Linked DNA regions of Homo sapiens: region 2 is linked to region 1. The links come from fine-mapping of genetic effects on gene expression. Tissue or cell type: nasal epithelium. Region 1 holds a variant in brackets; the other region holds the start of a gene. All regions are shown on one strand. Distances are from middle to middle. Region 1 overlaps TMC1 (transmembrane channel like 1). Region 2 holds the start of TMC1 (transmembrane channel like 1).

Evidence for each region. PIP is the estimated chance that this variant, and not a neighbour inherited with it, causes the effect. A credible set is the group of variants that fine-mapping cannot tell apart.
Region 2: it holds the start of TMC1, and the variant in region 1 is the best candidate, but not a certain one, in a credible set for the expression of TMC1 in nasal epithelium (TOPMed, PIP 0.75).

The regions. Positions count from the first base shown.
Region 1 is chr9:72,594,921-72,597,836 of GRCh38, forward strand. All of the region lies in intron 2 of TMC1 (transmembrane channel like 1), which reads left to right. Among named protein-coding and RNA genes, the nearest start is that of TMC1, 75 kb to the left of the region's middle. The variant C/T (reference allele first, on the strand shown) is at 1,767.
Region 2 is chr9:72,520,495-72,523,410 of GRCh38, forward strand. TMC1 (transmembrane channel like 1) reads left to right here and starts at 1,114. Exons shown (of 24, transcript NM_138691.3): 1 at 1,114-1,419.

The DNA.
Region 1 (2,916 bases):
AGTGGCGCAATCTTGGCTCACTGCAAGCTCCGCCTCCCAGGTTCAAGTGATTCTTCTGCCTCAGCCTTCCGAGTAGGTGGTACTAGAGGTGTGTGCCACCACGCCCAGCTAATTTTTGTATTTTTAGTAGAGACGGGGTTTCTTTATGTTGACCAGGCTAGTCTCGAACTCCTGACCTCAGGTGATCTGCCCACCTCAGCCTCCCAAAATGCTGGAATTACAGGTGTGAGCCAACATGCCTGGCCTCCTCTGCTTCTGATTCAACTGCTGCTACCGATAGACTTACTGAAGGATTTGAAGCCAAATGGTATTAATTTTGGTCAGTTACTTCCCTGTATCTGGTGTCCTCACTAGACAGAACTTCTGTGTATGGCTACTTCATAGACCCCGACCAGCCTACATATTGTTTGCTCTAAGGTCTAGTGCCCTCTCTTATTTCACTAAGATACAGCCACTGTTGGTGGGGGAGTCACATAACATGGAACATAATCACTGTATCAGTTCAGGTGCTCTTGATTCAAGTGGATTTAATTATGAGGGAATTTATTCCTTACATAATTACTAAGTCTAGCATTAGAGTGGCCTGCAGATGAGGGTTGATCCAGTGGCTCAGTGATGGCCAGAACGCTGTTTACTTTTTCCATTCTGCTATCTATGGGGTTGGCTTCATCCTGAGGTTGTTTTCCTTTCTGTCACAGGTTTTACATCAATGGGGTAAACTAGTTTACATTGTGGTAACAAGCAACTCTCAACTTTTTTTTTTTTTTTTTTTTTTAGACTGAATCTTGCTCTGTTGCCCAGGCTGGAGTGCAGTGGTACAGTCTTGGCTCACTGCAACTTCCGCCTCCTGGGCTCAAGTGATTCTCCTGCTTGAGCTTCCTGAGTAGCTGGGATTACAGGCATGCACCACCACGCTGGCTAATTTTCGTATTTTTAGTAGAGATGGGGTTTCTTTTTTTTTTTTTTTTCTTTTTGAGACAGAATCTTGCTCTGTCGCCCAGGCTGGAGTGCAGTGGCGTGATCTCGGCTCACTGCAACCTCTGCCTCCTGGGTTCAAGCGATTCTTCCGCCTCAGCCTCCCAAGTAGCTGGGACTACAGGCGCATGCCACCACGCCCGGCTAATTTTTGTATTTTTAGTAAAGACAGGGTTTCACCATATTGACCAGGCTGGTCTTGAACTCCTGACCTCGTGATTTGCCCGCCTCAGCCTCCCAAAGTGCTGGGATTACAGGCGTGAGCCACCGCGCCCAGCCAACTCTCAACTCTAGTAGCTTAAGACAACAAAGATTTATTTCTTGCTCTTACTGTCTGCCCATCTGTATCACCTTCTCTGCAGGACCCAGTTTAATGGAGCACACACAGAAAAAGGTGCTGGTCACTAGGGCCAAGGGAACAATGGCTCTGGAAGGTTTTTCTTGAACAATTCAGTGTTCCAGTCTTGGAGCAATACATCTTATTTCTACTGTTAAATCCATGGCCAGAACTAATCATGTTGTCCCACTCACCACAAAGCCATATGCAGCCCCACCATGTGCTCAGGAAAGAGGAATGGGAAGCATTTGATGAACAGAAATAATGACTTCAACAATTGGGACTATCAGTTCACAGTTTCAATTGTAAAAAAAAAAAAAAAAAAAAAAGACAGAAATAGAAAAAGAACAATTGAAAGTACTTGCTTTCTCATCCACGAAAAAAGTTGGTCAAAGCCTCTTAGTGTAAGTCTATAGCAGATGATGCCTGATAAGGAATTGTACATACCGTTCTT[C/T]GTGAAAACCAAGAGTACCATGTATGTAACATAGTTGCTTTGGGCTTCTTATAGCAGTTAAGAGTGTATCAGCAGGCCTCCATGGTATTTGAATGTTAAAAGCTTTCATTCCCCCTGGAAGAAAACACATAGCTAACTAAAGAAAGAAAAAAGAAGGGAAAAAGAACAAAGAAAAAGAACCACTAGAGTCTCTGAAAAGAGCTTATGAGATACCTGACTGTCTGCGCCTTCTAAGTATGTACCATGAAACCTTAGATTCCTACCTCATTTTGTGATGGTGTAGAAGGCACATTGGCCACCAGCAACCCTTGTAAATATTTGCGGATTTGAATTTCACAAATTGAAACCCAGACTGCTGAGGGCTTTGCTGCTAACGTCAAAGAGCTGGGGCAACTACCACAAAACCACATGTGGGAGACTTTTTAGATGAGGAGATAGGAAATTCCTAATAAGAAAAGTTTTTTTGTAAAATACTTTCTAATGCTGGCTCTTTAGAGAAGCACATTTTACATGTGCAATGGTGCAAAGTCCTAGCACTAAGATTTCTTCACTCACAGAAAGAAAGAATGATGCAGGTGCTGTTCACATGCGGCCGGAACCATGCCCTTGCCAAGCAGGTCAGCGGGGCACAGGGACTGCGCTCCTCATGATAGTGCAGATTGGCTCGGAAGTACTCAATTCTGTGGAGTCACAGCGCCCTCTGACAGATTTCAGTTTCTGGAAAAGGAAGGGCCCCCTTCAGGGTACCTGCTGTTCACCTTCCATTAGATTAAGGTTGAAGAGCGAGTGGCCATTTGTAGGTACTGGTATGAGATGTTCCTAGCTACCCGCATGTCAGCCCCGGGAAACGGCAACATTTCCCACCCTTCTTACCCTGGGTCCTGAGTAGGAATAAAAGTTAGTGATTCTTAGGGGCATATTGAGAGCTGGCAATGATACCTCTCACAAATCCATCCCCCAGAGATAAGGGGTCCCCCATGCCTTTGATGTATTTGGGAGCTGTGCTGTATGTGTTCTCTTTGGCTCCCCAGTGGAGAATAATAACAATAACAACCGCGTACTAATACAACCCAGATGTCAGCACAGACCCTCTGTTCTCTGTCTTCCCTGAGATATCTGTATCTTCTCAGGGATTACTGTCGGTTCAGGC
Region 2 (2,916 bases), 74 kb before region 1:
AAAAATGGTTAACTTTCTGTGAGAAGTCTGAGAAATCACTGAAGACATGAAAATGACAGGCTGGAGGAAGAAGTAAAGAACCTAGAAGGCCAAAATGGAATTCTAAGATAACATGAATATAGAACATAGAAAAGAGAAAGGATTGATTGAAAAAAGGAAAGGGGAAAAAAAAGGAATTATTAAATGGAAACATTAGATTCAAGTAAACCCAAAACAATCATCAAAGTAGATGTTAACAGCATTTTGAGTACATGTTGTGAGTATGAGAAGTGCAATTCTAAATGTTAGGCCCTTATGTTTTAACATATCAGCAAATACAATATTTTGTTTCTAATTTAACAAATTTTTAAGACTTATGTTAGTTGTGACATATTTCCAATAAATAATTATGTTTCCCAAGGACACTGGGTACAATAAAGTGGGTCTGACAATTAACTTACCTTTGAAACCTGAGCCCTTCATTAGTTACAGGAATAGACTGGAACATGATTTTTCCTCTCCTGCTTGGAGAACCCACAAGTTGTGTTTTCTTTATGAATATTGGAAATTCTTTCTTTTAGCCAAATGAAGGGTGTGCATTTCTTCGGCCAGGAGTTACCAGGCTGATAATCCTGATGCAGCGGTTCTCAAAGTCTCCTCAGAAGGCCCGCAGTAGCACCAGCAGCACCAAAGGACTTGTTGGAAACACCAGTTTTCTAGGCCGGGCACAGTGGCTCATGCCTGTAATCCCAGCACTTTCGGAGGCCGAACTCCTGAGGTCAGGAGTTTTGAGACCAGCCTGGCCAACATGGCAAAACCCCGCCTCTACTAAAAATACAAAAATTAGCCGGGTGTAGTGGCGGGCACCTGAAATCACAGTTACTTGGGAGGCTGAGGCAGGAGAATCACTTGAACCTGGGAGGCAGAAGTTGCAGTGAGACAAGATCACACCATTGCACTCCAGCCTGGGCGACAAGAGCAAAACCTCTGATTAGAAAAAAAAAAACAAACAGGCGCCGTGGCTCACGCCTATAACCCCAGCACTTCAGGAGGTTGAGGTGGGCGGATCACCTGAGGTCAGGAGTTCAAGATCAGCCTGGCCAATAGAGTGAAACCCCGCCTCTACAAAAACATGATGGCGCGCGACTGTTTCCCATCTACTCAGAGGCTGAGGCGGGAGAATCGCTTGAACCCGGAAGGCGGAGGTTGCAGTGAGCTGAAATCACGCCATTGCGCTCCAGCCTGGGTGACAGAGCAAGACTCCGTCACAAAAAAAAAAAGAAAAAAGAAACACCAGTTTTCTGATTTCACCGAAGACCTACTGCCTCAGAAACTATGAGGGCAGAACCCAGCAATCTGTGCTTTCTTTCACAAGCCCTCCAGGAGTTGCTGAAATTTAGGAATCATTGCCCCAAAAAGTGGCCCTCATAATGATGCCAGGTAAGGAAAGACAACATTATTACCTATGTGTGGTGTGTTAACATTCTTTATGAAACATGTGTGAAGACCTAAATCGAAGACTTTCTCCATGAGATATTCCCTAATCACATTAGTGAAATAAAACTATATTTCCTCTACTTTTCTACTGCTACAGAAATCTCCCCCAGTTAGGATAGTCCCAGTTTCCTATTTATCTTTGTTTTTCTTGCAGTGCACAGCATGTCACCCAGTAATTGATAAGTTTTTTTTTTTTTGAGACGGAGTCTTGCTCTGTCTCCCAGGCTGGAGTGCAGTGGCGCGATCTCGGCTCCCCAAGTAGCTGGGACTACAGGCGCCCGCCATCACGCCCGGCTAATTTTTTGTATTTTTAGTAGAGACGGGGTTTCGCCGTGTTAGCCAGGATGGTCTCGATTTCCTGACCTCGTGATCCGCCCGCCTCAGCCTCCCAAAGTGCTGGGATTACAGGCGTGAGCCACCGCACCTGGCCTAATTGATATGTTTAAATGTTAAAATTAAATGCAATGATTTCCTAAAATAAACAAATGTGGGACAATTTATTGCACTCTGTTCAAATTCCCATTTTGAAGTGGAATTCAAACAAACATGACAGTAAAGGGGGACAGTGAGCACAGGGACAAGAGAAAAGGAGAAAGGGAAGAAATACAGAGAACTAGATAGGAGGAAGTGTCAAAGACTGATGGGTGTAAGCCACCTTTACCTCTGGATATTGGTTTTCCTTTGAATTGTGGTATGTGGTCATATTGCTTATTAGTTATAACATACAGCTGTCAGAAGAGTTTTTCAATTAAAATTTCAAATGTAATATTAAAACTGTTTGGATTCCTTCCTACTGGGCACTGGACACTGTCTGTGGAGCTGCTGGAACAGCGCTGAATAGGGTCATATTTTAAAGGAACTCAGCCTAGTGCAGTTTCTCAACCTTAGCACTATTGGCCTTTGGGGCCTGATAATCCTTTTTTGTGAGGGGCTGTCCTGTGCACTGTAGGATGTTTAGCAGCATCCTTGGCTTCTACTCAGTAGATGACAGTATCAACCCCCTTCCCCAGAAGTGACAATTAAAAATGTCTCCAGACTTTTCCAAATGTCCCCTGAGGAGCAAAATTGTCTCCAGTTGAAAACCACTGGGTTAGTGGGAGAAACAGATAAGACAGAAGTTCTCCATACACCATGATAATGCCATGATGCCATAGGGCTGGCAGGAGTGAAGGGAAGAGCATCTCACAAAGACTCGGGGGGATGCAGGGAGGAGGAAAAATTAGGAAATGAAGTGGGCTGAGTTGCAGTTAGCCTGTGGGGAAAATGAAGGAGAAGGGATAAGGAAGAAGAGGAGGAAGGAGGGAGGAAGAGTGAGGAGTAATAGGGAATTATAGTTGACCTTGAACAACTTGGGGTTTAGGGATGCCGACCCTTGCGTAGTCAAAAATCTGAGCTTAACTTTTGACTACCCTCACACTTTCCTAACAGCCTACTGTTGAC